Homo sapiens: one gene and its partners. Changing the gene in region 4 together with the main gene of any one other region gives a genetic interaction. Each region holds a gene or a part of one and is shown on either strand. Other genes may lie near its edges.

Region 1 (3,500 bases), on a different chromosome or scaffold from region 4:
TGCTGGGATTACAGGCATGAGCCACCATGCCTGGCCTTTTCCTGTCATTCTCATGGCATTTATCAGAGTCTGTAGTTGAACTTAATCTGGATTGTTATTTGATTAATGTCTCTCTTGCTTGACATGTACGTTGTATAGTTCCTGGTACATGCAAGATGCTCAGTAAATACTTGTTAAGTGAATGAATGAATGACACTTGGTTACTTCATGTTGTATTTTTGCTGAAGCTTGCCATTCATGTAGAAGTGTGTTTGGTGGTACGTGGGTCAGGGGGGGCTCTCCGGTTATTTTATAAGTATAAAAGTATAATTTTATAAGTGTAGCTTAACCCTAATGCAATTTTCTCACATTTTTGGACTTCTTTGGTGTTTAATATAAATAAGGTACTATGTAAGTAGATAACAGCATTGTGGCTTCCAGAAGCAGATTTCAGATAGGAACAGAAATATTGTAGTAATTCAGTGTTGTTTATTTTTCCAGGTTGCCAAGGAAAGTGTACTGCAGTTTTACCCGAAAGCTAATATCGTTGCCTACCATGACAGCATCATGAAGTATGCTATAGTGATTACATTGCAAAGTTGTATAAGGGTTTTGTAAGCCAAATATATAAGCTCAAAGTCATTCAGCTTTTTTAAAAAAAATGATTTTTCTAGAATTATTAAACAGTGGTGGTTTCTGCTTACAGAGTGGCATTCTTTTTACCAGTTCATAAATACATGGTTTGAATGATTTAGAATGGTGAGATAGTTTAATACTTTTAATAAATAAGTTACTTGGAAATTTATAAAGACCTTATATGCTTGCCTTAAGTAAGAAGATATTTTAAACTATGAAATATCCTTATTTATGATGATTCAGACTTTTCTAAAGTGTTTGCCTTTTTTTGTTTAAAAGTTTCCCTCCCAAAATAATCTGTAGTATGACTCTGACTTCTGTAATATAACACTTGGAATTGTGGTAGGGCAGTAGTATTGACAGTACATAAATATATTTATCTCAGTAAAGATAGAGTAAATATATAATTTTGGAGGAGTTGGAGCAAAGGAACTGTGGGCCGAAATTGTCCTTTATCTATGGTGGTTTAGCTTGCAAGTAAATAGTGTTAAAAATAGTCCTTGTTTGAGGTACTGGAATTGAGGTACTTAACACTTTCTCAGGGCATTTGTATCTCCGGATTGTGTTTTTTTTGTGTGTGAGATAGGGTTTTGCGCTTATTGCCCAGGCTGGAGTACAGTGGCATGATCTTGGCTCACTGCAACCTCCGCCTCCTGGGTTCAAGCGATTCTCCTGTCTCAGCCTCCTGAGTAGTTGGGATTACAGGCGCACGCCACCACACTCAGCTAATTTTTGTATTTTAGTAGGCGGGGTTTCATCATGTTGGCCAGGCTGGTCTCAAACTCCCGACCTCAGGTGATCCACCCGCCTTGGCCTCCCAAAGTGCAGGGATTACAGGCGTGAGCCACTGCACCCGGCCTGTATCTCCGGCTTGTTTTTTAGTTTTTTACTCTGTGAACCTGCCTGTAGCCCTATAACCTCCTTACCCTGTGTTGCTTTCCCAGTGCTGCTAAAAACAGAGACCCTAGGGGCCTGAACCCTGCCTGATCCTGATCATGTGAGGTGAAGTCAGAGGCCAGGCAGATCCTGGGAATGTGTTCTTTATGCGTTCCCAGGCACTTGCTGCCCAAAGAAGGCCTAGTGGGACTAGTGAAGTCATGCCATCTTTCTGCCAGTTTGAGATCTTTCTCTTGTGCCCTAGCTGGCCAAAAAGGATAGGAATTTGAAGGAAATAATTTCTTTAAAATCTGCTTATGTTTGGAAAGAGTCAAACCTTACTATCTATATGACATATAATCCTGATATCAGTTTTGTTTACAGTTACTATGTTTTTTTCAGAACTGTTTATTATACTGCAAAGATCATGTGGAAGGCTAGTTATTTTGGTGACCTTTTTTTATTTTGTTTTGTAGCCCTGACTATAATGTGGAATTTTTCCGACAGTTTATACTGGTTATGAATGCTTTAGATAACAGAGGTGAGGTTATTTTAATACTTTTAATTTCTCAGTATTTCCTCTCTCCCATATCAAATTTGTTTACAAATTTAATATTTATTAGACTATTGTGATTTAGAACTTAAAAGACTTAAGAGAAATGATCGAGTTTAAAGCATGCCCATTGATTGCAGTTTTATATAGAAATGACTTATTCCAGGCGGGAATTTAGCTATCATATTCTCTGCATTTCTACCAAAAGGTATAAATAGAAGTGAAGTGAAAAGCTCTCAAAAAGTGTGACTGTGGCTCAGCACAGTGGCTCACGCCTGTAATCCCAGCACTTTGAGAGACCAAGGCAGGAGGATCACTTGAGGTCAGGAGTTCGAGACCAACCTAGTCAACATGGTGAAACCGTCTCTACCAAAAAACACAAAAATTAGCCGGTGTGGTGGCATGTGCCTGTAGTCCCAGCTTCTCCGGAGGCTGAGGTGGGAGAATCGCTTGAAGCCAGGAGGCAGAGGTTGCAGTGAGCCTAGATCACACCACTACACTCCAGCCTTGGTGACAGAGTGCGACCCTGTCTCAAAAAAAGAAAAAGTGTGACTGGAGGGTGGGGTGGGGGATGCTTGAGTGATATTCTTTGTCTGTAATTACTTCCACATGTAAAAGTATATCTACTAAGTGAGTTTACAACAAGTTGGGCCAGAAATATCTAAATAAAAAACACAAGGAAAAGTCAAAATTACGTTTATTTTTTAAGGCTTGGGGGGTCTCACTGTTGCCCAGACTAGAGTGCACTGGTGTGATCATAACTCACTGAAGCCTTCAAATGGGCTCAGGTGATACTCTTACCTCAACCTCTGCAGTAGCTACTCTGCAGACAGGTACCACCATACCCGGCTAATTTTTTTATGTTTATTTTTGTAGGGATGAAGTCTTGCTTTGTTGCCCAGGCTGGCCTCGAACTCCTGGCTTCAAGCAGTCCTCCCACCTCAGCCTCCCAGAATGCTGAGATTATGGGCATGAGCCAGTGCTCCTGGCGTGAAATTACTCTCTTAACCTGACTCATCTTTTTTCCCTAGCCTTAAACTACTTTAATAGTTCCAAGTTGATATTCCACATTCTGCCTTCATTTCTATCATGTATTATCTGCTAGTTATATTAGAATAGTGGTGAGTTTAGGAACACCTTGAAACAGTGTTTTGTGTAAGGTACAGCAATAGAAGAGAAATATGGCACGTTGGATTTTTAAGATTATGTGTTTCTGTGGGTACTTCTCCTGGAGTAAATTTGTGATATAAATTCTATTTGATATTTTGCTAAGTGAATGTCTCTTAAATGTCTGTAATTAACAGTTGTATTATTCTGGCCATAGCTATAAGAAAATTGTACAAAAAATGAAGCCAGTAAGATAGTTTTGAGTCTGTGTCATCCTAATTAAAGATAACTAATTTTTTTTTTCCCAAAAACTCATACTGTTTGTTTTACTTCCAGCTGCCCGAAACCA
Region 2 (3,500 bases), on a different chromosome or scaffold from region 4:
ATTTTGCTTCATTACAACTCCATTTTTAAAGAAATTGGAAGAATTAGAAAAAGAAGAAGAGCTGAGAACAGCTGCTGGAGAGTATGACAGTGTATCTGAGAGTGAAGACGAAGAGATGCTGGAAATCCGACAGCTGGCAAAGCAAATTCGAGAGAAAAAGAAGTTGAAAATTCTGGAGTCCAAAGAAAAGAATACACAGGGACCCAGGATGCCGCGAACTGCTAAGAAGGCAAGTTTGTGTCTTTCCAAAGCAGTGTGATCTAGTTTTTGAAAATTGGATTCCTGTGTGATCATTGCTAAATAACAACTTTTCAACCCATTTATGGCCATAAGATTGCACATTCTTGTTTTATTGGTGTATGGATTTGCAAGATCGCTCACGTATTGATCTTTTATATTCTTTACTGCGTCCTTTCTTGGTGACTTTCAGCTTCGAGTTTGGCACTACTCTAGATCCAGTCATTTTGCAGTTGTACAGATTAAAACTGTAACTTATGGTTCACAGACGTTCAAGGCTATCAGTGAACATTTTCCTCTTCTTTTTTCTCTCTCTCTTTTTTTTAGGGGGGAGATGGAGTCTTGCTGTGTCTCCCAGGCTGGAGTGCAATGGCGCCATCTTGGCTCACTGCAGCCTCCACCTCGCGGGTTCAAGCAATTCTCCTGCCTCAGCCTCCCGAGTAGCTGGGATTACAGGCACCTGCCACTACGCCTGGCTAACTTTTGTATTTTTAGTGGAGATGGGGTTTCACCATGTTGGCCAGGCTGGTCTCAAACTCCTTACCTCAAGTGATCTGCCTGCCTTGGCCTCCCAAAGTGCTGAGATTACAGGCGTGAGCCACCACGCCCGGCTGGTTTTCTTGTTCTTTAATTTCTGCATTAAATCTGGACTCTTTAGGCCGGGCGCAGTGGCTCACGCCTGTAATCTCAGCACTTTGGGAGGCTGAGGTGGGTGGATCACGAGGTCAGGAGATTGAGACCATCCTGGCTAAAACAGTGAAACCCCGTCTCTACTAAAAATGCAGAAAAATTAGCTGGGCGTGGTGGCGGGCGCCTGTAGTCCCAGCTACTCGGGAGGCTGGGGCAGGAAAATGGTGTGAACCCGGGAGGCAGAGCTTGCAGTGAGCCGAGATTGTGCCAGTGCACTCCAGCCTGGGCAACAGAGCAAGACTCCATCTCAAAAAATAAAAAATTTAAAAAAAAATCTGGACTCTTTAGCAATTTACAGAAACCTGACGCAGTCTACAAAAGGCAATTTATTGGCTCTGTGGCAGGGTGGGACTGGGGGAAGAAAGCCCACATGCAGGGCAGTTAACATGTAACCAGAGAAGTCACTTGACATTCAGGATGCCTCTCAGTGGGTCTTCCTGTTTGAATACACTGTTTTCACATGGTGGCAAGTGACTGGTTATGGCGGACTTGGACATTTTTGTACTTCTCCAGGTGGGGCTCAGCCATCTCTGGGAGGAGAGAGGTTGGCGCACTGCCTTTGTCTGAGGCCACCTCACTAACCTCAGCTTTAGTGTCTCACCTCTGATGGAGACGGTCACTCTCTCCCCCGTGTTGCGGTGAAGAATGGACAGACGTGGAGGATACGCTGATTCTTCCCACAGCAACTGCTCTGTTAATGTTAGTTTTCGTGGGATTTAATTGAGCTATCCAAAAACATGAAAGCGGGGCCCAATAAAAATTACAACTTCTAAAATAAGTATATTATAATTGTTGCAAAATATGTATACATATATATTGCCTTGAAGTTTTTTTCAACATTTCATCAAACTAATTTAAAGCTAATATTTCTTTTTATCCTTCTCAGGTTCAGAGGACAGTTTTGGAGAAGGAGATGCGTAGTCTTGGTGTTGACATGGACGATAAAGACGATGTGAGTGTGGGGGCGGTTCATGTGTTTATGTGGCTGGATACACCTTTTTAATAAAGAAAACTGGCCGGGCGTGGTGGCTCATGCCTGTAATCCCAGCACTTTGGGAGGCCAAGGCGGGCAGATCATGATGTCAGGGGTTCGAGACCAGCCTGGCCAACATGGTGAAACCCAGTCTGTACTAAAAAAAATACAAAAAATTAGCCGGGCGTGGTGGCGTGTGCCTGTAATCCCAGTTACTCAGGATGCTGAGGCAGGAGAATTGCTTGAACTTGGGAGGCAGAGATTGCAGTGAGCTGAGATCGTGCCCCTGTACTCCAGCCTGGGCGACAGAGTGAGACTCCATCTCAAAAAAAAGAAAGAAAGAAACCAGGGTTTTGGAAAGCCGTGGGAACGTGGGAAATTACAGCAAAAAGAAATGAGAGCTTCCAGTTTTTCTCTTTTGAGATTCGCTGGCCCTGGGACTGACTTGAAGTGATGGGTTGAGGATTCCCTGACCCTGGGTCTGGGTTGAAGTGGTGGATTGAGGCTGCACTCCAGCCTGGGCAACAGAGCAAGACTGTGTCTCAAAAAAAAAAAAGCTCCACAGCCAGCACGAGACAGCACCATGACGTGCCCAGGGTGTGGCTGCAGACCCTGTCCTCTAGATGTGCAGTCTGCAGTTTCCGTCTGATGGTTTCTGTCTGATGGTTGTCCCTTTGTGTTCATATCAGTAACCCCCAAAATGGGGCAGTGAGGGAGAGAGCATTGTTTATATCTGAAATATAAATTGTGATGCTATACTATAATAATCACTTTTAAATGAGAGTTCTAAGTTTCTTTAAGTGGAGTTAAAATCAGCTTTCTTACGTAAAGCAGCTTCCGTTAAGTGAATAAGAATATTTGACCAACAACTAATGTGAAATTGTTACTAATGTGAACTTGAAATGGTGTCACTAATATGAAAATACTGCGTGTATTTTCAAGACCTTTAGCCCATGTGTTAATGGTTCAGACGCTCCTCTCCTCCCCTCTTGCTGGAGTGACCTCATGCCTGTCGCTGAGCCTGGGTGCGGGGCTGGGGTCCTGAGCTCTGAGCCTGGGAGTGGACCTGGGGTCCTGAGCGCTGAGCCTGGGAGTGGACCTGGGGTCCTGAGCGCTGAGCCTGGGAGTGGGGCTGGGGTCCTGAGCGCTGAGCCTGGGAGTGGGGCTGGGGTCCTGAGCTCTGAGCCTGGGAGCGGGGCTGGGGTCCTGAGCGCTGAGCCTGGGAGCGGGGCTGGGGTCCTGAGCGCTGAGCCTGGGAGCGGGGCTGGGGTCCTGAGCGCTGAGCCTGGGAGTGGACCTGGGGTCCTGAGCGCTGAGCACTGAGCCTGGGAGTGGACCTGGGGTCCTGAGCGCTGAGCACTGAGCCTGGGAGTGGACCTGGGGTCCTGAGCGCTGAGCATTGCTTCCCCTGCTTTGCAGGCCCATTACGCAGTCCAGGCAAGAAGATCCCGGAGCATCACTAGGAAAAGAAAGCGGGAAGACTCTGCTCCCCCGTCCTCTGTGGCCCGGAGTGGGAGTTGCTCTCGAACTCCACGTGACGTTTCTGGTCTTAGGGATGTCAAGGTCAGTCTCTGTGTTGTGTAATGTAATAAAATGACAG
Region 3 (3,975 bases), on a different chromosome or scaffold from region 4:
TAAATAAATAAATAAAAAGAAAGTATTATGCATACATTTAAAGTCAGGATACAAACCCAGTGCTTCAAAGCAGTTATCTCTAGAGGACAGACTGACAAGGGGAATTTCACTTTTTTTCTTTTTCTTTTTTTTGAGACGGAGTCTGGCTCTGTCTCCCAGACTGGAGTGCAGTGGCACGAACTCGGCTCACTGCAACCGCCGCCTCCCGGATTCAAGCAATTCTCCTGCCTCAGCCTCCCGAGTAGCTGAGATGACAGGCGCGAGCCACCACACCCAGCTAATTTTTTGTATTTTTAGTAGAGATGGGGTTTCACCGTGTTAGCCAGGATGGTCTGGATCTCCTGACCTCATGATCCGCCCACCTTGGCCTCCCCAGGTGCTGGGACTACAAGCGTAAGCCACCACGCCCGGCCAATTTCACTTTTTCTGTATTGTTTGAACGTTTACAGCGATCATCTTCTATGACCAAATAAAACAAAAACAAAACCAAAAAACTCAACTTCCAAAAGTACTATGTGGTTAGAGCCTTTCAGAAGAATTTCTGAATTTCTAAAGCCTTTCAGAAGAATTTCACTTCATGAGAACAACTCTCCCAGCATTTCTAGAGTACTATATTCTGTAGGGACCTAGAATATGCCAAGTTATGAAATAAATAGTGCTATCCCAGCCTATGCTAATAAGATATTTGAGTACTTTCTCTATATTATAGTAAGCAAACAACTGAGGGACCAAAAAAAAAAAACAGGTTTTAAAGTGACAAGGTTCAAATCTAGGGTAACAAATGGCAAGATGGGAGTACTCACATGATCAAAGAAATGTACCACTGCAAGCTTTTTGCTGCGCCTGGTAAAGATGCGCTGCACTTTAGCAATTTTGCCAAAATGGTTCTCCAGAATGGTCCTGTCGTTGAGGTAGTCAGGGATGTTCTTGCACTGGATGGCTGTGACTTCAGAGGGAGACAAGCCCCCAAGACTGTCTGTGCTCTCGCTTCTGTTACTCTGACGCGCCGGAGTTCCTCTTAGAGAATCTAGGGGTTCAGAGAATGGACACTTAAACCATCAGATGTTTCCAACAACAGGAGGCACCAACTGTGTCGAAGCAGAGGAAATTTTCAGATGTAAGACCTGCTCCGATGACATGTTAGAATCCCTAATGTTTATGGGAGATTTATCTGAAAAATCAAGCTAACACCCAGAGAAACGTATTGAAAACCTGCCTGCAGGATTTACTCTATGTGCTACATTTTCAGAGCTCACCTTCTTTCTTCTCTCTACTTTCAGTTTCTTCCTCTTTATTCACACCTGGAATCCGGGAAGGTGCCAGGACAGACTGATTCCCTCCTGGGATAGCCATGTGGTCACTTTCTGCAGACTCAACAAAGCCAGTTTCCTTTTTGGCCTCCTTGTTGCCCAGACGACCTACTTCCTTATTGCTTTTGAAAACATCCTGTATCGTCCGACCAAATAAAGTACCTCCCCGGGGTCGATTCAGGCGGACAGGTCGTTTGTCTGGAGGATGATCGCCCCGGGACAGAGGATCCGAATCTTCTGCTGGCTCGTGGCCATGTCTCCTTGGGGAGCGATCCTGGTCCTCCTTCCTTTTCAGTCCTTTCATTAGGCTGGGAAGTGGTTCCACCTGGGAAACAGCTTCTTCACACCCCTGCCTGACACCTGCTTTGCTAGCCTGGAAAGGTTCGCCCAAAACCGCAGATGATACAGGGAAGCTACTGAAGCTATTATTAGAACTTCCAAATATTGACTTAGGTCCTCTCTTCTCTTCCTCTACATTTTGGTTTGACAAAGCAGGGGTAAAGGCAGATAATGAATTATTACTACTAACAGGTTTTGAAAAGGTAAAATTTGAAGTGGTAGCTGAACTACTTGTTACTTGAGGAAAAGAGAAAGGGGCCAGGCCTCCAGGTGCACTACTAATTGGGTGGGAAAATGTAAAAAACCCAGAAGCAATTTGGCTCTGGGTTTTCTCTGGCTCAGATTCAGCCCCCAGTATTGGTTTGAACACTGCATTTTCCAGAGGTTTAAAGCTGAATTCTGTTTTCCCAAAACCAGAGTTCACTATTTCTCCAGCTTCTTGTCCAAAAGCAGAAGTGCTTGGGAAAGCCCCAACACTGGTGGGTGATTTAAAACTAAATCCTGTGTTTCCCAGCACAGATGAACTTGAAGGCCCAGAGGTAGCCACAAAGGTGGAAGTGTGCTCAAGTCCAGAAAAGGGTCCAACACTTGAGGTTTGGGTGAACCCTAATGTTTGCACTGAAGAGGAATGACTTACTCCAGAAGACGCTGGAAAGCTGGATACCTGTGAAAATCCCGAGCTCTTCCCAGATAAGGTACTGTTTTGTCCAAAAAGAGAAGGTTGACCAAATCGAAATGGCGGCTTAGATGGAAGTGTTCCTACATTACTAGAAGACGCCGAAAAAGCACTAGGCTGCTGCCCACTGAAAGGATTAGTTGGGTTCATCTTCTGCTCCAATTATTAGAAGGTAATTAAGTATTATGTGTACAAAATTAATTGGCTTCCTGAAACAGCCTGTAGCACTAGGGAGTTCCCCTTCGTCTTTAGAACAAGCTGAAAGAGAAAAATTCAGATCATCATAGCTATGTTCTGCTACAAGTCTAAGAAAAGAATTTTTGAACACTGTCATACTAAAAGGATAACTATTTCAAAGGCAGGCAAAGGGTTATTATTTTCTGAGAGCCGATAGGTTATTTTGTTGGAGGGTGGGGTAGAGAGTGGTACAAATAATTACTTTGTTACAGAGGTTTAAAGCGTGATCCTTTAAGATTAAAAAAAAAAAAGCCGAATCTTTTTACTGAGTTAGTAAATTCATGAAAAACCTCCATTGGCAGTAAGAAAATGAATGCTGTTCCACCTTACAACTTAGAGACGAATTTCTCCCGACTTCCTCCAATCTCTACAGCCGGAGAATTCACTGTAACGCTGTCAAAACCTTAGCGTTTCGGGATCTCCTCCCACCTGGCTTCCCTCGGAGCGGCTGGAGCGCTAAGCACTTTCTCACATTCCTTCATCGCGCCCTGGCGGCCACCCTCGAGCGGGCTGGAAGGACGAGGGCGCTGCCACGAAGCTGAGGCCTCTCGGCGGGGACGGCGTGCCCGGGGAGCCTAATCTTCCACCCAGCACAGCCCGAAACGGCGGAGGCCACGCGCTGGGCCCAGGCCGGCCTGGCCACTGTCCCGCCCCGGGCTCGCCAGGGGTCGCCGGCGCCGCAACGCTCCGTTAGCGACGATGTGGAGGCCCGGGCGCGCGGAGCTGCGTGGGGGAAGGAAACGGCGCCCCTGGCGCCGGCCCAGCCCCCACGCTCACCGTCTCGCCCCAGGACCCCGAGGCCCGCGCTGCCCACTGGCCCCTCGGAAAGACTTGAGGCGCAAGCACAGGCTGCTGCCGCGACACTCAGCGCTGCGCACCGCGGGCAGAAAACGCCGCGGACCGACTTCCGGTTCGCTCAGCACTACCGGATTCCGCCCCGCCCGCTGCGATCCGGTTCCGCTCCCCACAACCCGCTCTGTGGCGGGGCTTCCGGTCGGGAGGGTCCGCCCGCTCTCGCGTCCTTTGCTGGGTCCAGACACCGGTACGTCCGGGCGGGTTTTTAGTCTCCCAAGCGAGAGCGTCGCATTCACCCGCGTGGGTCTGCGGGCGCCCCAGACCCCAGAGGACCCGGCCCCCAACGCTTACCTGTCCCCTCTCCTGTCCCTCCCCCATTCCAGCCCCTTCTCTCCCCAGCCGTTGCCCCTCCCCGCACCCCGCCGCGTCCGCGCGCCTCTCTCCGCGCGCACCCCCAACCCGCCCCCTTTTCTCTGGGAACCGCTCCTTCCGCTCCGCCCGCCTGGAGTCCTTCTGGCCGGATTCCGCGGCATCCTTCCATAGACCCTCGTTGTTGCTTCCTCCTTGTGGTAAATGTAAATTCCCTTAAGATTTTCAATCAGTTCCACCAAATAAAGT
Region 4 (3,500 bases):
AGACAAAGTCTTGCTGTGTCATTCAAGCTGGAGTGCAGTGGCACAGTCATAGCTCACTGTAACTTCAAACTCCCGAGCTCAAGCAATCCTTCTTCCTCGGCCTTCTGAGTAGCTGGGACTACAGGCATGCGCCACCATGCCTGGCTAATTTGTTTTTTCTTAGAGACAGGGTCTTGCTATGTTGCCCAGGCTGGTCTCAAACTCCTGGCTTCAAGTGATCCTTCTGCCTTGGCCTCTCAAAGCTCTTAAGATTATAAGACATGAGCCATCACTCCTGGCCTCATTTTACCTTTTAATTTTTTTTGTTTTTGTTTTTTTTTTTTGAGACGGAGTCTTGCTCTGTCACCCAGGCTGGAGTGCAGTGGCGCAATCTCGGCTCACTGCAAGCTCCGCCTGCCGGGTTCACGCCATTCTCCTGCTTCAGCCTCCTGAGTAGCTGGAACTACAGGCGGCTGCCACCATGCCCGGCTAATTTTTTTGTATTTTTAGTAGAGATGGGGTTGCATTGTGGTCTCGATCTCCTGACCTCGTGATCTGCCTGCCTCGGCCTTCCAAAGTGCTGGGATTACAGGCGTGAGCCACTGCGCCCGGCCTTTTTTTTTTTTTTTTTGAGGTGGAGTCTTGCTCTGTTGCCTAGGCTGGGTGCAGTGGCATGATCTCGGCTCACTGCAACCTCTGCCTCCCGGGTTCAATGATTTTTCTGCCTCAGCCTCCCCAGTAGCTGGGATTACAGGTGCATGCCACCACGCCTGGCTAAGTTTTAATTTTTGTTTTTAATAGAGACGGGGTTTTGCCATGTTGGCCAGTCTGGTCTCAAACTCAAATGATCCGCCTGCCTCCGACTCCCAAAGTGCTGGGATTACACGCGTGAGCCACTGTGCCCGCCCATTATCTTTTTTTTTTTTTTAATTTGGAGACAGAGTCTGTGGTGTCAGATGGAGCGAGCCTCTGTCACCCAGGCTGGAGTGCAGTTGTGTGATCTCAGCTCACTGCAACCTCTGTCTCCTGGGCTCAGGTGATCCTCTCACCTCAGCCTCCTGAGTAGGTGGGACTGTAGGCGCACGCCACCACACCCAGGTAATTTTTCTATTTTTAGTAGAAATGGGGTCTTGTTATGTTGCTGAGGCTGGTCCCAACTCCTGGGCTCAAGTGATCTGCCCACCCCGGCCTCCCAAAGTGCCGGGATTATAGGCATGGGCCACTGCACCCAGCATTGAAAAAATTTCTTTTGTAGAAATGAAGTTTCACTGTCTTGCCCAGGCTAGTCTTGAACTCCTGGGCTCAAGTAATCCTCCCACTTTTGCCTCCCAAAGTGTTGGGATTACAGGTTTGAGCCACCATGCCTGGCCTTAATCTTCTCAATATACTTTAAGGTTAACAGCTTTTAAAATTTCTCTTTTACAGCTGAGGAAACTGAGGCACAGAGAGGCTAAGTAACCAGTTCAAGGTTACATCACTGGGAATTGACTGGGCCTGGGCTTGTTTTTAGGACTTTCTGATTCAAAAGTCTTTTTTCCTTGCTTATTAAGCTATATTCTAATGGATATATATATATATATATATGGATATATACATATATGGATATATATATATATGGATATATACATATATGGATATATATATATATATGGATATATATATATATATATGGATATATATATATATGGATATATATATATATATATGGATATATATATATATATTTGAGACAGAGTTTTGCTGTTGTTGCCCAGGCTGGAGTGCAATGGTGTGATCTCGGCTCACCGCAACCTCCGACTCCCGTGTTCAAGCGATTCTCCTGCCTCAGCCTCCCCTGTAGCTGGGATTACAGGCATGCGCCACCACGCACAGCTAATTTTGTAGTTTTACTAGAGACGGGTTTTCTCCACGTTAGGCTAGTCTTGAAATCCCAACCTCAGGTGATCCGCCCGCCTCCGCCTCCCAAAGTGCTGGGATTAGAGGTGTGAGCCACCAGGCCCCAGCCTTTTTTTTTTTTTTTTTTTTTTAAGAGAAAAAGAAATTGCTGTAATATAGTCTCTGGTGTTATACTTGAAGCTATAATTTGAAGCTTCTATTTTCTTCTAGAGGTTTGGTTAACTTTAAGGTAATTTAAAATAATTACAAGTGAACTGAAAAAGCTGCTTTGTTTAGTGAAAGAGAATTAACTATAGGTGTATGCAGTAAGACTGAAGAAAGTAATATAATGTCAAGTGAAGAAGGCAAATTGCAGAAGTCTATATGAAGTATGCCTTTTTTTTGTATGAAACTCACAAGTGAGCGAAACTAAATGATAAATAGTTTAAGGGTGCTGCCAAGTGTGCAAACTATTCAAAAACAAGGGAACGGTAAAAGCAAATTTCAGAATGTCGGTTATCTCTTGTGGGACAGTAGAGAGGAAACAGGTAGTTTCAGTGGATTCATAAGTCAGATGGTGTGTTTACAAGTGTTCATTTTATTATGCTTCATAACACAGTATGTATGTTAGATATTCTTCATAAGAAAAAAGAATACAGACCAAGCATGGTGGCTCATGAGCTCATGCTCATGGTGGTTCTTATATTGAGAACCCTGTCTTTACAAAAACAACTAAAAAATTAAAAAAAAAAAAAAAGCTTTAAAGGATGCGTTTAAAGTGAATCTACCACATATCAAGTAATATTGAGGATGTTTTATATTACCTGAGGGACTTTGAATTGCTTTATATATATATCTAGTATCTAGTGAAAACAAATCTCATTTATTCAGTAAAATATTAAATTAGCCTAGGTTCATAAGGGTATTAAAGAATTTTTTTTTTTTTGAGATGGAGTCTCATTTTCGCCCAGGCTGGAGTGCAGTGGCATGATCTCAGCTCATTGCAACCTCTGCCTCTCAGGTTCAATGATCAGGCGATTCTTGATTCTCATGCTTAACCACTAGAGTAGCTGGGATTATCAGCGCACGCCATCACGCCCGGCTAGTTTTTAGTAGAGACAGGGTTTCACCATGTTGCCCAGGCTGGTCTCGAACTCCTGGCCTCAAGCAGTCCACCAGCCTTGGCCTCCCAAAGTGTTGGGATTACAGGTGTGAGCCACCACGCCTGACCTAGTATATTATCTTTACTCAAGTATTTTAGCTCAAATTAAACCTCTAGTATTTGTTACAAGGCTATTTAATTCTTAATAGCAACCTATCAATGTCTTATTTCTTGTAAATCTAAAGTAATTTTCAATTTTAGAGAGTTTTAAATTTGTAGATTTATAAATTTACTTTTAAATATTTTTTAAATAACCTTAAGTTATTTATATCAAGCATTTCCTTCACCCCACTTCCTTATTGTAAAAGGAACTTAACATTTATTCTTCTGTACTTTCTTTTTTATACTGTTGTTTTGCAGCAAGGGCAAGTATTTTGTAACCTTCCCATATCCATATATGAATGGACGCCTTCATTTGGGACACACGTTTTCTTTATCCAAATGTGAGGTAATGTTTCCCTATGTTTGCTATAATGGGGAGGAA

Evidence for each region. A genetic interaction does not mean that the proteins touch.
Region 1: changes in LARS1 (region 4) and UBA2 together harm fitness less than expected from each alone (positive genetic interaction), as found in Homo sapiens cells (one large-scale study listed by BioGRID).
Region 2: changes in LARS1 (region 4) and GTPBP4 together harm fitness less than expected from each alone (positive genetic interaction), as found in Homo sapiens cells (one large-scale study listed by BioGRID).
Region 3: changes in LARS1 (region 4) and MCM3AP together harm fitness more than expected from each alone (negative genetic interaction), as found in Homo sapiens cells (one large-scale study listed by BioGRID).

The regions. Positions count from the first base shown.
Region 1 is NC_000019.10:34,431,381-34,434,880, forward strand, and holds part of UBA2 (SUMO-activating enzyme subunit 2), read left to right. Parts: intron 1-480; coding exon 481-551; intron 552-1,967; coding exon 1,968-2,032; intron 2,033-3,487; coding exon 3,488-3,500. UniProt on the Homo sapiens protein: The heterodimer acts as an E1 ligase for SUMO1, SUMO2, SUMO3, and probably SUMO4. It mediates ATP-dependent activation of SUMO proteins followed by formation of a thioester bond between a SUMO protein and a conserved active site cysteine residue on UBA2/SAE2.
Region 2 is NC_000010.11:1,012,434-1,015,933, forward strand, and holds part of GTPBP4 (GTP-binding protein 4), read left to right. Parts: intron 1-31; coding exon 32-229; intron 230-1,813; coding exon 1,814-1,879; intron 1,880-3,319; coding exon 3,320-3,463; intron 3,464-3,500. UniProt on the Homo sapiens protein: Involved in the biogenesis of the 60S ribosomal subunit. Acts as a TP53 repressor, preventing TP53 stabilization and cell cycle arrest.
Region 3 is NC_000021.9:46,282,812-46,286,786, forward strand, and holds the start of MCM3AP (germinal-center associated nuclear protein), read right to left. Parts: upstream 2,801-3,975; 5' UTR 2,476-2,800; coding exon 1,257-2,475; intron 1,028-1,256; coding exon 804-1,027; intron 1-803.
Region 4 is NC_000005.10:146,172,651-146,176,150, reverse strand, and holds part of LARS1 (leucine--tRNA ligase, cytoplasmic), read left to right. Parts: intron 1-3,376; coding exon 3,377-3,464; intron 3,465-3,500. UniProt on the Homo sapiens protein: Aminoacyl-tRNA synthetase that catalyzes the specific attachment of leucine to its cognate tRNA (tRNA(Leu)).